Linked DNA regions of Homo sapiens. The protein of the gene in region 2 interacts with the protein of the main gene of each other region in a pairwise test. Each region holds a gene or a part of one and is shown on either strand. Other genes may lie near its edges.

Region 1 (4,257 bases), on a different chromosome or scaffold from region 2:
TCGAGGGCTGGGACCACATCTTCTTCATCTCAGCATCCCTGAACCTAGCACAGTGCCCAGCATACAGCAGGTGCTCAGTACATGTGTTTTAAATGAACCAAATGAATGAACACATAAATGCATGAGCATCTCACATCAGGTTCCTTCTGTTCCTCAGCTATGAAAATGAACCCACAAAGACAACACCACAGATTCTGAGCACCTGGGCTGGGACTTAGGCCACCACACTTCCTCCTCCACCATCGGATTTTTATCCTCATCCCTGCCCTCGACCTCTGCAGTGCAGCACACCCCTCCTGACCTCCCTCTCCAGCAGGCACCATGCCAGCCTCAGGATTCGGGGTGAATTGGGAAGCTCATTCACCTTCATTTACGGCTGGGGAGACAGAGGCAAGGGAGGCAAAATGACTTGCCCCAGGTCACACAGCTCGGCAGTGGCAGGGCTGGGACAAGCACTCAGGGCTCTGAGTCACCTCACTGTGGCTCTCAGGCACAAGCTACAGCAAAACCACCTTCAGGCCTCCCCCTCCCTGTCCCCACTCACGCCCACCAGCAGCTGGTGCAGGCCTTGGCAGCCACACAGAACCAATATTCAAGCCATCTTTTCTCCTCAGGTCACAAGTACCTGGCATTGCCATGGCAACCCTGGGTCTGCAGAACAGCTCTTGTGGACAGAGGCCTTAGCCCCAGAGCCACATGTGTCTTTTGTGGCCCAGTGACAATGATGTATCTGTCCTTGTGCCTGGAGCAGCCAGGGCATGAGGAGTCTCAGGGTGGGTTTAAAGGAACTGGCTGGTGCTCTGAAGGGAGACAGGTTCTCCCGTTCTCTGAGCAGGGTCTCCTGGACCCCGTGGCACTAGCCTGGAAGATCCACGGGGAGATGCTAGCTGGGGTCTGTAGCCAGGCCTGGTCAGAGAGGTGCAACCCTGGTGATTCAGGATCAAGTTTTTTTCCAAGGGCAAAGAAGTACTATCCCCTTACAAAGGTGGGCCAGCCATAGGTGGTGCATGAGGAGGGAGGTGATGAGATGACTAGGCTTGGAAGGATGGAATCTGGAGAGGCAGCTGAGCCAGGGGTCAGGGGAGACTGTTCACAATGGCGGGGGGGAAGCCAAGCACACGTGTCTGCTAGTAGGGCTGCAGTGACAGTGTCAGAGGATAGAGAAGTGAGAAACGGGGACGTGGGGGGGTCAAGATGACAAGGTGGCAGCAGGGAGCCTCAGTCTCTCCCTACAGGCCTCTGCTCCTCATCCCCACACAGGATACATGCCACCCTGTCTTGCCCCCATCACCACTGGGCTGGAATGGAAAGCAGCAGAGCTCAGGGCTGGGTAGCGCATCACCCAGCTGGCTGAGAGCATTCCTGGAGGGGAGGCCACCCACAGAGCTTAGGTTTTTGCACTTCCTCGTTTGCATCAGTTTTAAAGAAACTCATTTTGAGGATATGGCAGTGGAGGAGGACCAGGACTGCCTCCTGTGGGTCACGAGCCTGTTCCCTGCCCTACCCTCCAAACGGAGCCGCTGGGTCCTCTAAGACCTGTCCCAGGAGCAGCCAGAATCCCATTTATGGGCCACTCTTTGCCTGGCGCTGCCTTCACCTCCCCAGCACCTGCTTCCCTGAGGCATTAAGTGGGATCTTGCCCCCGCCACAGCCCACTAGCTCTACCATCTTCTGTCTATTGAATTAGGCTACTCATTTCATTTTGCTGAGGCTTAACGTTCTTAGCTGTGAATTGGGGATACCATCTGCTGCACAGCATTGGATGTAATGAGACACTCTGAGCACCTTATATGCAGTAAACCCTTAAGAGACCTTGGTTTCCCTCCCATTTAGAGATCTGAGGGCCACACTTCCCACAGGTAGCCAGTTCAGCAGAAGCAGGGGGAGGCCTCAGGGACAAGGGAACATTCCCCTCCCTTCCCTTTCACCCAGCCTCATTTTCTCTGCACGGCATCCTCTGAAATTCCTTAGGCCCCTGTCTCTGGGAATCACTGAATACTGATCTAATAGTGATTGCTTACTGAGCATCTGGAGATAATGGTGTGTGTTTCTCCATGCCAAGCAGCACCTGTGAGGAGCTAGGATGGGCCTTCAGCATCCCACCTTGAAGGAAGGACTTGTTCTCTGTTCCCCTTTCGCACCTTTTTCAGACTTTCTTAATCCTCACAGGATTATCCCCACTTTGTAAATGAGCAAACTAAGTTTCAGAGTGGGCAGGTAACTTAGGCAAAGTCACACAGCTCATTAAGTGATGGGGCCCAGATCAGACCAAATAAGATGCCAAAGCCTGCATCCTTGCATCTTTTCTGCTACATCACATTGCTTCTTTGAGCCATCTCATAGCTCCTTGAAACACCCAGGTCCCCACCCACTGTCCTTTCTGCATCCCCCACACCCATAGAAAAAGACAAGCCTATTAATGTGCTGACTCCAACATCCCTGAGCTCTGGGATTCCAAAGCTGAGTACCTTGGTGGAAGGGGCCTTTTCCAGGTGCCCATGAACACAGCCATGCCCTCCTCCCAGGAGCTGACCATCTCAGGGATGGGAGGGAGGCCTGCTGTCCTGCAGACATTTTCAGGAGAGTGTGTGGGGCCAGCGAGAACCCCCTTCTCCCATCCTAGCACCAGAAAGCCACCCCCTTCCCCACAGTGAGCCAGGGCTCTTGCCTGTGTGTATGAAGAATGGGGTACTTTCTGCTTTAATGCAGAATTAATTTGAATCCTGGCTCTGCCATGCCACTATTTCCACACTTCACCTTAGCCAAAAGGCTAAGAAGCGATGTGTGCCACTATTTCCAAACCTAGGGCAGGTTCCTGACTCTTTCTGATCTTCAGTGTTTTCATGTATATATAAAAAATGGGAATATGAAATAAGAATTTTAGCAGGGTTTTTTTTTGAGGGATGTGGGGGTCATAATTAAATGAGATAGTGATTATTAAAGCCCCAAGCATGTGGCTTGGGTATGTGTGTGTTGAATCACTTTGTAAGTGACAGTCACTACCACCAAGCAAAGAGGGTCATTCAGGATCCCCTTAACATGAGTCTGGGTCTTCCTTAGGGTCACATGCCATTAGGGTATACCTGTACATGTACTTGTGTGTGTGTGTTCATGTGTGAGAGAGACCATGCACAGAAAACCAAATCTGTGGACAAGATGGCTTCTCAACCCTAGTGCCTCAGTGAGGTGAGTAGGGGGTTTCAGCTGGCAAGATTGATGGGAGTCCCCATTGTACTACTCCAGACGGGCTGATGGTACCCACCCACCAGGGTCCCCACCGTCCCTCCTCAGAGCTTACCTCATTGTTGACAAAGCAGTATAATATGGCCACCATCAGCCCCTGGAAACAAGAGTCACATCAAGAGGGAGGAAGCAGGAGGGAGGTGCCCTGCAGACTGGCCCTGGTCGGAAGCACTTTGGGACTCCATCCTCAACAACCCCCTCCCCAAATCCAGCGGCCCAGGCAGATCCAGGAATGGGGCAGTGGCTTCCCTCTCATTTCCTTTCTGAAGGAACACCAGGGTTGCACCTCTGCGACTAGGCCTGGCTACAGGCCCCAGCTAGCCTCTCCCCATGGGTCTCCCAGGCATGTGCCATGGGGTCCAGGAGACCCTGCTCAGAAGCTGCCCAGAAGCTGTAGAGATCCTACATCCAACCTCTCCTTGAGGAGGCCTGATCCAGTGAAGTACAATGACTCTGATCATGGAGAATATTCCCCACTCCAGCCCCATCTGTTCATGAAGGAGACCCAGGGCTCCAGAATTGTGTTCTGTATGTCTGCACATGTATGTAAATACACACACATGAGCCCACATGTGTGCAGGCATCTCATGACACTCTTGAGGGGCAGGCAGGGACCAGTTTTTTTGTATTTTTACACCCCCTTAGCATCATCTAATGCTAGTGGAGAGGATCAGTTCTTTTCTTTGAAACTGTGACACCGTAACTCTGGTTTTAACACCTCTGAGTCTCCTCTGTAAAGTGAGGCTAACCCTGCACATCTCCTGGGTTCTGTGAGGAGTAAATGCACAATGCATGTAAAGCACCTGGCAGGGTGCTCGCCACCAAGTAGATGGCAGCTGCAATGCCAGGCTGGTACCCAGAGCTACATCCAGGAAGGCTTCTTGTCCCATGTGCTTACAGAGAAGACTGGCCCAGGTATTGGGACACCTGGGGATACTAGTTCTGGCTCTGCTCCAACTAGGTGACTTTGGGCAGGGATCACCCCTCCAGGTCCCAGTCTTCCCACCTTTTCCA
Region 2 (5,573 bases):
GTCAGCAGCATAGGATTAGTGTGATTACTTACAGTAATATAAATGTAAAAAAATAAGCAAAATATTGCCTGTAATCTCAGCACTTTGGGAGGCTGAGGTGGGAGGATCATTTGAGCTCAGGAGTTTGAGACCAGCCTGGGCAATATAATGAGACCCCCATCTCTAAAAAATAAATGAAAGGATAAATAAAAATAAATAAGCAACATGTATCACTCTGTTAGAGTCTATTAAGAGTTTTGCTCTGCTATCAGAAACCTCTTCAGTCACTGACAGTTCATCTAAGAGTTAGTAAGGCTGGATTACAAACAGGAAAGAGTAAAGAAAGGGTTTTTTTTTTTTTTTTTTTTCTTTTTTTTGAGACAGAGTCTCGCTCTGTTGCCAGGCTGGAGTGCAGCGGCCTGATCTCGGCTCACTGCAAGCTCCGCCTCCTGGGTTCATGCCATTCTCCTGCCTCAGCCTCCTGAGTAGCTGGGACTACAGGCACCAGCCACCATGCCCGGCTATTTTTTTGTATTTTTAGTAGAGATGGGATTTCACTATGTTGGCCAGGATGGTCTCGATCTCTTGACCTCGTGATCCACCCGCCTCGGCCTCCCAAAGTGCTGGGATTACAGGCGTGAGCCACCGCGCCCAGCCAAGAAAGAGTTTTGTAAATAAAATTTTAAATTTTAAATTTTAAATTTCAGCTTCTTTTCAAAGCAGCTGAAAACACACTTTCCTTCCCCATCCTATTTTCCCTAAGCCCATCCAACAAAGTGCCAGACTGAAAAAAATAAGATGACTGGTTAAAGTTGAAATTTAATAAAAATCCTATGATATATATTTTTTCAGATGGCAGGTCCTGCAATTAAAAGTATACCTGACCAGGCATGGTGGCTCACGCCTGTAATCCCAGCACTTTGGCAGGCCTAGATAGGAGGATTAATTGAGGCCAGGTGTTTGAGACCAGCTTGGGCAATATAGTGAGACCTCATGTCTAACCACAAAAAAAATTAGCCAGGCATGTGGGCCTGCACCTGTCATCCCAGTTAAGTGAGAAGCTCAAGTAGGAGGATCACTTAATCCAGCAGTTCGAGACTGCAGTGAGCCATGACTGCACCACTGCACTCCAGTCTGGGTGACAGTGTGAGATCGTGTCTCAATCAATGAATCGATCAATAAATATAAAAGTATACCTGCTTGCTTGGTGGTGGAAAATGGGCATCTTTATCTTGGTTTCCACGAGCAGACGCTGAAGCCATGATGACTTTGTGCTTGCTCTCCTTCCAGTTGTTTATCCTCTGCTTACTCCTTGACCCAGTGTCTAAGGAAGGTAGAAGAGAATCACTATGCCATGACTAAATGTTTGCATCAAGCTTAAAAGCATCCTGAGGATCCACTGGAGTTATTTGGAAAATGTGTTTTTCCTTTTGTCATTAGTCCATCTGCAAACTCAACTTCCAGTGCTCCTCTTCCACCAGCACACATACATGCACTCACTAATGGGGACAGATCAGATTTAGAATAGAGTGGAAATACCACACTGTGCACTGAGTGTCGATTATGTGCCAGGCCAGGGGATATGAAGAAGGATAAGACAAGATCACCGCTGTGAAGGAATTCACAGTCCAAAAGGGGAGATAGACAAGTCAACAGTTACACAACATGAAAAGTATGCATGGGATGCTAAGGAAGAAAAGAAAGCAGGGTCCATTCCATCTAGTCATGTCACAAAGGAACTAGGACTCCTAAGCTTTCAGGAGGATCTGTGGAGGGTAGATGGACTCTGGGGCAGGAGGACCAGGTTGGAAGGTGGTACACTAGTCCAGACAAGGAGTTACAGGGACGTGAACAAAGACCCTGGTGGGAATTTAGCATCTTTGATAGAGATGCTAAATTTGGGTTTGGAAATGTTGGATTTGGGTGCCTGTGGGGGCAAACAGTGGAATTAGCCACTGTTAATATTTGACGATTTGGGTCTAGAGTTCCAGAACAGGGGTAGGCTAGAGAGATGAAGTTGGGAGCTGCCATCATAGAGATGAGAGTTAAAGCAGGGAACTTTAATAAATGTGTCTAAAAACAGTACTGGAGAATATGAACACTGAGCCCAAGGGAATATCGAAAAGAGAAGAAAGATTAAAAAAAAAAAAGCAGGCCAAGGAAATGACTGAGAAGGAATAGCTGATACAGAGGGGAGGGAATTTCTGAAGGAGGGAGTGAATCATCAACACCATCACATGGCTTAGAAAAGTGGACCCTGGATTTGGCAATGATGGACATAATCCAGGTGGACTTTGAGCCTCCTCCTGCCCCCAGTGGCCACTGCATTCTGCAGCCCTGAACTCTACCTCTACCTCTGCTTTTCTTCTGCAAAATGAACCTCTTATATACAATTCTGTTTCCTACATCAGTTACTAAACTTTGAGGCATTTGAGCCAAGGGGACCCGTACTCGCACCAAGTTTCATCACAGGTGTCTAATGTGATTACAGGGGCAGCACGGTGCCCTGCACGGGAAAGTACTGGGGTCAGAGAGACCAGAGTTCAAATCGTGACTCTTTACCCCTGCGATCCCTTTGGTGCAAATGACTTAATCCGTCTCTGCCTCAGCTTTCTCCACTGTTAATTGGGCATAATGGACACAACAATGGTGAGGGGCTCTTGCAGGAATGAAGACTAGGATGAGGATGAGGATGAGGGATACGTCCATAAAGCCCCTGCACACCTTCCATTTCCTGAGCACTCCCAGGAAGTCTTTGCTGACCACGCCAAATTAGATTATCTTTGCTTAGCCATTAGGCCGCTGCCCTATATTGGGAGGCAAATATACCTCTCAGCTTCGGTGGCCAGGTCCCCTGGCACCCACTTAGTCCTCAGTCTGCACCTAAAAGCAAGCCTTCCGAGGGTCTTGCCTTGCAGGTGTAGCTCCCACCCCCCACGCTGGGGTGGTCCGGGGACCCTCTGTTTCCTCAGTGGTGGGGAAGGGACCCGTGGGTTCGTGGGTGCTGACCGACGAATGTGCGGAGGAGGGCGCGCCCCAGCATGGGGGGCGGGGGTGCTTCTTAGGATGGCTTGGAGGGGGGCGCCTGCAGGGCTGGACGGCGGACGGGGGACACTGCACTTTCTGATGCGGTCGGGGAAGCCGGGAGTCAGCCTACTGGAGTCCGCTGCCATCCCTGGCCAGAAGCAGCCAGCGCCACCCCAAGCTCCCCAGCCCCTCGCCCGTGCCGGGGCCGCCGGGGTCCGAGTTAGGGGAGAGTGGGGGGCGGCCACCGCTGCACCGCGCGGCCTTCGAAGGACTGCCCTGCGGCGCCGCGTTCCCCCGAGGCCACCCCCTCCCGCCGTCAACACTCCCCGGGGCGGGGGCTCACCTGTGTGGTCTGGGTCGCCTCCGAGGCCGAGTCCCTCGTTGCCAAGCCCAGCAGGCCTCGCTCCCCCGTGACTGCACCGCCGGCCCGCTCCAGCTTCCCGAGTACCCCACCTGTCTCCCCGGCTTCCTTCCGGCCCTTTGTGTTTTCTTCTCTTGCTCCGCCCCCTCGCCTGCCCGCTAAGCACTTAAGCTGGTGAAGTCACCCTACTGCCACCTGGCAGTCACTTTCGCTGTTGGTGGCAACCCAGGCTGGAACCCAGCTCTTGCCGGAACCCCTGCCCCATCCTTGAGGCTTGTCCCGACACCGAGTAGGTTCTAGTTCCTTTGTGCCTTCCAAATGACTCCCTTCCTCCAGCAATCACAGCCGCAACAGCCATGTATTGCGCCCCCGCCCTAGGCCAGGCGTGGGCATCACCTTTGCACTCCTTTCTGCAGCCGTGTGTGGTGCCCACTGTGACCTGCACTTCACAGACGGGTCATCTGAGTTGTGCAGGCCACTAAGGGAGCCTGGAGTCAACCCCAGGCCTGCTTGGCTCCCAGGCCTTCTCTTTCCATTGCTCTTTGTCGGTCCCCTGCTGCCTCCTGTCCCTCCCCAACTCTGACTTGTGGAGGGAAGCCTTTGACATGTGGGGGTACCTTTAATACCGATATCACTTGTTACCGGAGAGGGGTCCCGATCCAGACCCCAAGCGAGGGTTCTTGGACTTCTCGCAAGAAAGAATTCGGGGTGAGTCCGTAGAGTGAGAGCAAGTTTATTAAGGAAGTATAGAAAACAGGCCGGGTGCGGTGGCTCACGCCCATAATCCCAACACTTTGGGAGGCAAAGGCAGGCAGATCACTTGAGCTCAGGAGTTCAGACCAGCCTGGCCAACATGGTGAAACACTCTCTCTACTAAAAATACGAAAAGTTAGCCAGGCATGGTGCTCTATGCCTGTAATCCCAGCTACTCGGGAGGCTGAGGCAGGAGAATCGCTTGAACTCCGGAGGCAGAGGTTGCAGTGAGCCGAGATTGCGCCACTGCACTCCAGCTTGGGCGACAGAGCCAGACTCTGTCTCAAAAAAAAAAAAAACAAAAAAAAAACAAAAAACAAGAAGAACAACAACAAAAAAGAATGGCTACTCCACTGGCAGAGCAGCTGTGTGGGCTGCTTAGCTAATTATACTGGTAGTTATTTCTTGATTCTATGCTAAACAAGGGGTGGATTATTCATGAATTTTCCAGGAAAAGGGTGGGCAATTCCCGGAACTGAGGGTTCCTTCACTTTTTAGACCATATAGGGTAACTTTCTGACGTTGCCATGGCACTTGTAAACTGTCATGGCCCTGGTGGGAGGGTCTTTTATCAGGCTAATGCATTAAAATTAGCATTTAATGAGTAATGAGGACGACCAGAGGTCACTTTCATGACCATCTTGATTTTGGTGGGTCTTGGCTGGCTTCTTTACTGAGTCCTGTTTCATCAGCAAAGTCTTTGTGACCTGTACCTTGTGCCAACCTTCTATCTCATCCTGTGACTAAGAATGCTGAACCACCTGGGAAGGCAGCCCAGTAGGTTTCAGCCTTATTTTACTCAGTCCCTATTCAAGATGGAGTGGCTCTTGTTCAAACACCTCTGGACACAGTTACCCCAGCCATGGCTGACAAAGTTTTCTGGGCTGAGCTGCCAGGACTGACTGAGTGTGTTGACTTGGAGAGAGGCTGTGGATCTCCACTGAAGGCCCTCTTCATTTCTCACCTTTTCCTATTGTGCGAATTGGTCCCTGTACCTGTGGCCGCTTCCTCCTCACGCCTCCCCGATCCACACCTCCAACTTGTTGTTTCTCAGATTCACACAGCTCTTTTCCACTGGAGGCCCTCCCCTGCCTGCAGCCTCTCCCGATTGGTCCTGTCCTGGCTTTTTCCTACTCCTTCTTTTTGACTGTTCCTCAGGAAAATCTTCCTTGACCCCAGCCTAAGGCAGGCCTTTCTTCTTTTTCATAGCACAGGACACTATTGTTTTCCTTCATAGCACTTATCACAACTCATTATGTACTTATTAGTGTGTTCATTTATATAAAGCATATTTTCCCTGCTGCAGAGTAATCTTCATGAGGTTCAGAACAAGATGGTGTCAGTTTTGTTCACCATTGTGTAGCATCTTGGATATAGAAGGGGCTCAATAAATATTTGTTGAATGAATGAATGAATGAATGAATGAATAAGTGAGCCTAGGTTCAATGACTGT

What was found. The genes of interacting proteins can lie anywhere in the genome.
Region 1: the proteins of OCIAD2 (region 2) and GLP1R interact in a protein complementation assay, tested with the Homo sapiens proteins (one large-scale study listed by BioGRID).

What each region holds. Positions count from the first base shown.
Region 1 is NC_000006.12:39,079,781-39,084,037, reverse strand, and holds part of GLP1R (glucagon-like peptide 1 receptor precursor), read right to left. Parts: intron 3,341-4,257; coding exon 3,299-3,340; intron 1-3,298.
Region 2 is NC_000004.12:48,903,309-48,908,881, forward strand, and holds the start of OCIAD2 (OCIA domain-containing protein 2), read right to left. Parts: upstream 3,467-5,573; 5' UTR 3,350-3,466; intron 1,327-3,349; exon of another isoform or gene 1,304-1,326; 5' UTR 1,242-1,303; coding exon 1,176-1,241; intron 1-1,175. UniProt on the Homo sapiens protein: Has an essential role in the assembly of mitochondrial respiratory chain complex III. Is also required for STAT3 activation and plays a role in cell migration.